Homo sapiens: one gene and its partner. The protein of the gene in region 1 purifies or fractionates together with the protein of each later gene. This does not show direct contact. Each region holds a gene or a part of one and is shown on either strand. Other genes may lie near its edges.

Region 1 (3,808 bases):
TGGCGCACGCCTGTAGTCCCAGCTTCTTGGGAGGCTGAGGCAGGAGAATCGCTGGAACCCGGGAGGTGGAGGTTGCAGTGAGCCGAGATCACACCACTGCACTCCAGCCTGGCAACAGAGTGAGATTCCATCTCAAAACAAAAACAAAAACGAAAAAACCTTAAAATTTTTTTTCTTTAAAGGTATACACACAAATATAGTTCTTTCATATTCTCATGTGATGTTTGCAAATTGCTTGTTAGAACGAACAGCAGTAGTATGGAACATAAATCCCACACCTCAGTGGTGTTTTTTTTTTTTTTTTTTTTTGAGACAGAGTCTTACTCTGTTGCCCACGCAGGAGTGCAGTGGCACAATCTCTGCTCACTGCAACCTCCGCCTCCCAGGTCCAAGCCATTATCCTGCCTCAGCCTCCCAACTAGCTGGGATTACTGGTGTGCACCACTGTGCCTGGCTAATGTTTGTATTTTTAGTAGAGACGGGGTTTCACCATGTTGCCCAGGCTGGTTACAAACTCCTGAGTTCAAGTGATCCACTCACCTCAGCTTCTCAAAGTGCTGGGATTATAGACGTGAGCCACTGCGCCTGGCCTCAATGGTTTCTTTACATACCAATACTCTAGATATTAAACTACTTTTGTATTGGCCAGAGATAAAATAGATTAAATTATGTGTTGTATTGAATAACACCTGAATCAACAGTTAATACTGGCAAGTTGGAGGAGCCGTGATTTTTTTTTTAAAGTCATACTTCTTCTCTAAGCAACTTTAAATTGCTAGGGTTTTTAAAGAATATTGGGCCAAGCAAGGTGGCTCATGCCTGTAATCCCAGCACTTTGGGAGGCCAAGTTTTCTTTTTTTAATATATATTTTTTCTTTTTTTTTTTTTTTTTTTTTTTTGCTACCTTTGGATTCTTGATAGTGAGCTTCCAATAATTATTTCTTAACAGCATTTAAGTCTGATTTACACATCATACTTTATACCAGCAGCAGGGCTGGTTATGCCTGTACTAATATTCAGACATATATTGAAAAACTAGCCTTGTCTTTTTCTACTGTGTAAAAACCTTTATTGTCAATACATTTTACTTGTACTTAAGCTAAATTTTTTTTCTTTTTTTTTTTGAGATGGAGTCTCACTCTGTCACCCAGGCTGGAGCGCAGTGGTGCAGTCTCAGCTCACTGCAACTTCCGCCTTCTGGGTTCAAGTGATTCTCCTGCCTCAGCCTCCTGAGTAGCTGGGACTACAGGCATGAACCACCATGCCCAAGAAAGGAGGATCATTTGGAAAAAATATATATATATTATCTGATGGCCCACATCTGTGGTCCCAGCTACTTGGGAGGCTGACATGGGACGACTGCTTGAGCCCTGGAGGTTGTGGCTGCAGTGAGCTGTTATCAACTGCTGCACTCCAGCCTGGGCAAGAGAGTGAGAGGCCATCTGAAAGAAAAAAAAAAAAAAGGCAAGAATATACATCTATCTGTTTTCAGTTTAAAATAAAACATTTAAGTCTATATATGTTTTTTTCTTTTTTTTTGAGACAGAGTTTCACTCTGTTGCCCAGGCTAGAGTGCAATGGCATGATCTCTGCTCACTGCATCCTCTACCTCCCAGGTTCAAGTGATTCTCCTGCCTCAGCCTCCCAAGTGTCTGGTATTACAGGCACCCACCATCATGCCTGGCTAATTTTTGTATTTTGGTAGAGATGGAGGTTTCACCGTGTTGGCCAGGTTGGTCTTAAAGTCCTGACCTCAGGTGATCCACCCGCCTTGGCCTCCCAAAGTGCTGGGATTACAGGCATGAGCCATCTCGCCCGGCCTATATATATGTTTTTCTGATTCCTTCTTTAAGTTTTAGTTAATTGACTAATTACCAGCCTTGATCACGTTGGATTCCTCTGTATCTCTGCCATTTATCTTTTGAAAATTAAAAACACAAAACGAGTAAAAATTCCAAGAGGATGGAAATCATTTTTAACCCAGCTTTGTTTCCTGTCCCTCAACATTTGCCAAATTGTATTATGCAAAGTAGGTAGTTAGATTTCTGCTCAAATAATTTTCACTTTGGTTCTTAATATAACACCAAATACTGGCTGGGTGCGGTGGCTCATGCCTGTAATCCCAGCACTTTGGGAGGCTGAGGCCAGCGGATCACCTGAGGTCAGGAGTTTGAGACCAGCCTGTCCAACGTGGTGAAACCCCATCTCTACTGAAAATACAAAACTAGCCAGGCATGGTGGTGCATGCCTGTAGTCCCAGCTACCCAGGAGGCTGAGGCAGGAGAATAGCTGGAACCCAGGAGGCAGAGGTTGCAGTGAGCCAAGATTGCGCCACTGCACTCCAGCCTGAGCAACAGACTGAGGCTCCGTCTCAAAAAAAAAAAATAAAATAAATAAATAAATAAATAGACCAAATACTATATTTTTACTTTTTCCTCCGCAAGCATGTAAATCGTAATTTTACTTACAAGTGACTAAATGTCAAGAAATAAAGAAGCACACAGTTGCACAATTTGTGAGAAATAAGAATTTGGTGTTTCAGTGAGATTATCATAGAACTAGAATTTGACACGATATTTTCTTTTTTTCTTTTTTTTTTTTTTTGAGACAGAGTCTCTCTCTGTCGCCCAGGCTGGAGTGCCATGGCACGATCTTGGCTCACTGCAAGCTCTGCCTCACAGGTTCATGACATTTTCCTGCCTCAGCCTCCCAAGTAGCTGGGACTACAGGTACCCGCCACCGCGCCCAGCTAATTTTTTGTATTTTTATTAGAGACAGGGTTTCACCGTGATAGCCAGGATGGTCTGGATCTCCTGACCTCTGATCTGCCTGCCTCGGCCTCCCAAAGTGCTGGGATTACAGGTGTGAGCCACCACACCTGACCAACACGATGATATTTTCAGTTTTATTTCTAGTTATGTAATTTTCTCTATATGGGAAACTACAACTTATACATTACTGATATTCATAATATAGTGTAGCTGATCGCTCTAATTGTAACTGTATTCCCAAGATAGTGTTTATTCTAGAATTATGCTCTGTACATTTGTTCTGGAAATGACAACCATCATGAGTTTTTTAATGCCCAAAGGAGAGTACAGTAAACCCTCTGTATCCCTGAGTTCCACATTGAGCATTTAAGCACCTGTGGATTGAGACTATTCAGAAAGGGCTGGGTGTGGTGGCTCACACCTACAATCCCAGGACCTTGGGAGGCCGAGGCGAGCAGATTGCCCGTGTTCAGGAGCTCAAGACCAGCCTGGACAACATGGCGAGACCCCATCTCTACAAAAAATACAGAAATTAGCCGGGTGTGGTGGTACGTGCCTGTAGTCCCAGCTACTTGGGGGCACTAAGGCAGGAGGCCCTCCTTGAGCCCCAGGAGGTTGAGGCTGCAGTGAGCCGTGGTCTCACCATTGCACTCCAGCAGCCTGGGTGGCAGAGCAAGACCAAGAAGAGCAACACCCTGTCGGCCGGGCACGGTGGCTCACGCTTGTAATCCCAGAACTTTGGCAGGCTGAGGCGGGCGGATCATGAGGTCAGGAGATCGGGACCATCCTGGCTAACATGGTGAAACCCCGTCTCTACTAAAAAATACAAAAAATTAGCCAGGCGTGGTGGCAGGCACCTGTAGTCCCAGCTACTCGGGAGGCTGAAGCAGGAGAATGGCATGAACCTGGGAGGCAGAGCTTGCAGTGAGCCGAGATCATGCCACTGCACTCCAGCCTGGGCAACAGAGCGAGACTCTGTCTCAAAAAAAAAAAAGAAGAGCAACACCCTGTCTCTTAAAAAAAGAAGGAAAAAAAAA
Region 2 (4,594 bases), on another chromosome or scaffold:
CAAGCATCACCCAGAGTAAAGAAAAGAGTAGCAATAGTCAGATATCAGAAACATGGTGCTCCTTTCATTAAATGGCCTTAATTCATGAAGCATCATAAAAAATATACATAAACAACATACATATAGGTTTAAAGCTCCAAAACACCTTTAAAATCTATTCATCTATCTGTTCAATTATATTACAGTCAAAGAAGAGTGCAATAAGTACTTGCTGTTCCTTCTTCCTGTTCCTTCCGCTGGCCTTCTTCCCTCAATTATGGAAATAGCTGATCCCTTTTCATCATTCGGGTCTGAGGACAAATGTTATACCCTCACACCGCCCCTCCCGGTGAGTCACTCTATTTCAAGCATCCTCCCCCATCACATGATCCTGTTTTATTTCTTCATTGCACTAAGAATACCTGAAATGTATATGCCTACATTTATATAGTCTATTTCCCCCTGAGAACGGAAGCTTCATAGAAGGTGAAACAAATCTTGTTAGTTGCTGCCAGTCGCACAGTAAGCCCTCTGTAGAAAATGTTTATTGGCCACATTTTTTTAAAAAGCGAATAAACCTCAAGATTAAGACCTCAAACCAAACTATTCCAGTTTCCAATTGCTTACAGCGACATACTGAGAAATCGAGTGACTCTCAAGAGAAAGGCCATTTTGAGGCTGGGGTCGAACCAAAATCCAGGGGGTCCACACCAGGTCAGTACCCCGGAATTGGCTGTTTTGCAAGATTTCGGGAGTACCAAATTGGCATGAGACATTTGACAACGAGGCCAGCCATGCACCGAGCTCAGGTTTTATTTCCGTTGTCCTTCTGACGTCAGAAAAAGCACGAGTTGCTGCACAGTTTCTTTTATCAAGGTGACAAATTACACCCTCGCTGGGCCCTGCATTCTGCAAACCATAAATTTATTTTCCTCCTCCCCCTTATATTGAAAAATGTAAAAACCCACTGCAGAGAGGTCAAAACCCCTTCCAAACGCAAATAAATACCGTTTTCTAGCAGAGGCGTCTTTTTTCACTTTTGCTACACACATCACCGCGGATTCGTCCGAGAAAGTACGTGATCCTGGCGGCAGTTAGGTTTCTAACAGAGAACGAGGGTTTGTACAAACCCCGGGTCCGCGCCGCAGAGCAAGACAAAGGACTCTGAATTGTAGCACCACCTTCCCCAGCCCAAGGCAGCCTGTGAAAGGCACTGGGAGCGGCGTGACGCGGGTACCGCGAAATTCCTTTTGCTGCCATATGCACTTGTGCCTTCTCTAACTACAGTTCAGCACAAACCTCAGGCGGGCGATTTGGCAGGCAAACGGTGCCCAGGCAGCCGGGTAACCTACTGGGTCCCAGTGGGTGCTGGGGAGCCCCATGCGCCAGGAGGTGGATAATTTAGGGGGCAAGGGGCTCGCACAAGGGCGAAGATGCGCTCTCCTCCCGGCACCGACCCACGCGTTTAAAGGCCTCTGCGGCAACGTTTAGGGACGCGAACTAGGTGCCGGGGGTTGGGGAGGAGGTGGGACTGGAAGCGAGAGCAGTCTGCGCCCAAGACCGCGCAAGAGGTGGCCTTTTGTTCGCTGGCTCCAGCACATCCCGGCTCTCGAAAAAACACTACCTCTGTCCCCTGCCACCCTCTGCATTTTAGAAAATCCTCTTCAGGGCAGGAAAGGACAGTGAGTCACTGCAAGCATCCTTTAGTAATTTCTCCCCGCGCCCTCCTACTTCCCCGCGTTACAGAGGGGCAGAGCACCAGGAAGGACGGCAAACATGCCCCGGTTTAGTGGTGGTCCGCGGCCGCTACCCAGCCGGCCGCACGCAGCACCCCCCGGACATCACACGATCTCCTCTGGGCCTTGCGGACACAGGAAATTTTCACCAAAGGCCGGGGATTCAAACACTCCCAGAACACGGTCGCGCCCTCGGGTCAGCTGCGCTCTCCCTCCAGACGTGCGTGGTTCCTGGCTCTCGTAAAAATGGAACCAGATCTGGTACCACACTCTGCCACAGCCACAGGAAAACACACCAAAGTCACAGGAAAACAAACCAAAAAGTAAGCCACAGCCCACGCAAAGGTGAACTCGGGGGCCCTGGCGCTTCCTCCCGCTGCCGCGTGCGTTCGGGAAGCACAGGAGACCTGGACTTTTCCTCTCCTAAAAGCAACATCCGAAAGCATCGGGCACAGCCGAGCTCTCTCTGCTTTCACGCCCGCAGAGATGATTTCTACGTTACCTCCTCCTCCGACATCTAAATCTCCCCTTGCCGCTCGCCCAGCCCTCCCCGGGAACGGATAATCACCTTACCTCCGGAAATAAAGGGAAAGGTGGCAAAAGGCGATGTGGAGGTGTCCGCCCTTCCGGGGTTTTTACCCTCGGCAGTTTGATGTCCTTTGTGTCAAGGTCTGGCTGCGGAGGCCGGGAAAATGTGGCCCCCGTCAGTAAGGGTTGGGCAGGGAGCTTGGCGTGGCCTGGCGGATTTCGGAGGAAGGTGAAGGGCGGAGGCTCCTGGCGACCTTCTGGCGGAGTGGCGTGGCCGCCCCAGTCCGCGCTCGCCTGGCTCTCCTCCTTTCCGGGCCGATTGCATCAGAATCTCCCCTCACCACCAACCCCCACTCACACTCTGCTCGCCGGCCTCGCACTTACATCGACATGCACCGGCGCTGAGGGTCACGAATCGGAGTCATTCTCCTACTGGGGGACGCGTGGCCCTTCCGCAACCATGGCTTGTGATGGTTTAACGCGGACAGGCCATTCCTCCCCGTCCCGCGCGCGGTCTCCTCCCCTCCTGTGCGCCCGCTCTTTAACCAAAGCTGCGTGTCAGTGAGCCGTGCCGGTCACATGGTGTCACTGCTGGCGGCCGCACCTTGCTGCCTCCCTCTTGCAGCTCTCTGACGATGCAGCGACCGCGGCTGGCGGAGATTGAGCAACGGGGAAAGGGTGAGGGAGGGGTTGCGGGGCGCGCGTGTGCCCGGCGCACTGAAGCTGGCACCGGGAGCAGAGGCTGCGCGCCGCCCTGGCACCTGCCCCTCTCCCTCCCGGGGCCCGGCGGCGTGTTCGGAACCCAGCTGCGGCTGCAGCTGGAGAATGAGAGCCCTTAGGGATGGGGGTGGGGCGGCTAAAGGGGCACCGGCGGAGGACAGGAGGGCTGTGCGTTCCGCTGGGGCCTGCATTTTGGGTACGCCAGAGCCCCGCCGGGGCCGAAGGAGCGAGGGAGTTGCATTGTGGGAAGGGCGCAGCATGAGGATGGCCGCGGGAGTGGCAGGTCCGAGCGCAGCCCGGAGAGCCGCGGGCAGCGCCTGGGACTACGGGCAGCGTTGGAGCGGAGGGCTGGCCCTGGGCACAGCCTGCAGATGGCCCGGGTTGGCGGGAAGGGGACCGAAGTGGCAGGGGCGGCGGGGAGCTCGGGCACCTTTAAAAACCCTTTGTCCCTAACCTGAAGCGGGAGGCACCTCCCCTCTTCCGGATCCAGCACCCGCAGACCTGGTCAGCCCTTCCTGAGATCTGCCCTGTGGAGCTCTGCTTTGGGGACTGGGTGTGAGGTGAACCAGAAGGATTTGCTGAGCACCGAGAAAGCACCGGCCTAGGCGCAAAGAGCCGGGGGCCAGCTCTTGGAGGGCCTGGAGACCCCACGTGGTCCCGACCGAAGGACCTGGTGCGTCCAGGTTAACGGAGCTGGGGCGCTCCAAGTCCGGGGGACGAGGGAGCGGCATGGAGGGGAGCAGGGGCAACTGGGCCTGGTTCCCTTTTTTCCCGCTTACTCTTTGTTTCAGACACAGCCCCCTTTCACTGGCTGGGCACTTGCTTGCAGAGGAGTTGTGTCTTAAAATGGCGACAGGAAATCCCACCTGCGCCTCAGCCAATTAGACTGTCATAGCGCGAATTTGCAGGGTGGAAACGCGAGCTTTTTATTGATAGGGAAGGTTCAGTCTCCTGTTCATGGTTCATCAAAACAGGAAAGGGAAGGTGAATCATAATTCAAAAATTAACTACCTGGAGCGTTTCAAGTAGACAGTAGTCATTGTATTTGGGTGAATTTTGCTTTTTCATCACCACTGGAAAAGCAAGATGATAACCAAATTTGAAACTCATCACGGACTAAACTTCTTATTCCCTTCGAATGGCAGTAAATGGCCTTTATTAGTTCAACAGTGGCTTCCTGAGAATCCTATTTAGAAGGCATGCTCTTGAGAAATACTGAAAAACAGAAAGTTCAGAGCAAACCAAAAGGGCAAACACATGGGCAGCCTAGCTCAGACAGACCTGCATTCAATTTCTTCCTCTGACACTTACTGCTTCCCTCATCTGCTTTACTTTTGTCCTAATCCTGTTTTCTAAATTTGTGAAAAAGGGGAGAAGAGTACACACAACATAGCAATATTCTATAGGTCATCAAAAAGTTGGTTCTTTCTACCTTACTAGAGGAAGCTAATTTATTGTGAAATTAATGATTTTAAGTAGTGTGCACCTTGCCTGGCACAAATAATTCTTATCAATAAGGTAAGAAATCTGAATAGGTAAAGTAGATGAACTGTGAGCCATAGCTTAATAGGCCTGTTGGAATATTTACCTTATTAAAGGCAGAATGTGTATTCATCGCTGTTTGGAGATTA

Evidence for each region.
Region 2: the proteins of UBXN8 (region 1) and SLC38A1 purify together in Homo sapiens (affinity purification with mass spectrometry, with the first as the bait; one large-scale study listed by BioGRID). This does not show direct contact.

The regions. Positions count from the first base shown.
Region 1 is NC_000008.11:30,747,020-30,750,827, forward strand, and holds part of UBXN8 (UBX domain-containing protein 8), read left to right. Parts: intron 1-3,808. UniProt on the Homo sapiens protein: Involved in endoplasmic reticulum-associated degradation (ERAD) for misfolded lumenal proteins, possibly by tethering VCP to the endoplasmic reticulum membrane. May play a role in reproduction.
Region 2 is NC_000012.12:46,266,238-46,270,831, forward strand, and holds the start of SLC38A1 (sodium-coupled neutral amino acid symporter 1), read right to left. Parts: upstream 2,807-4,594; 5' UTR 2,289-2,806; exon of another isoform or gene 2,218-2,288; intron 1,751-2,217; exon of another isoform or gene 988-1,750; intron 280-987; exon of another isoform or gene 209-279; intron 1-208. UniProt on the Homo sapiens protein: Symporter that cotransports short-chain neutral amino acids and sodium ions from the extraccellular to the intracellular side of the cell membrane. The transport is elctrogenic, pH dependent and driven by the Na(+) electrochemical gradient.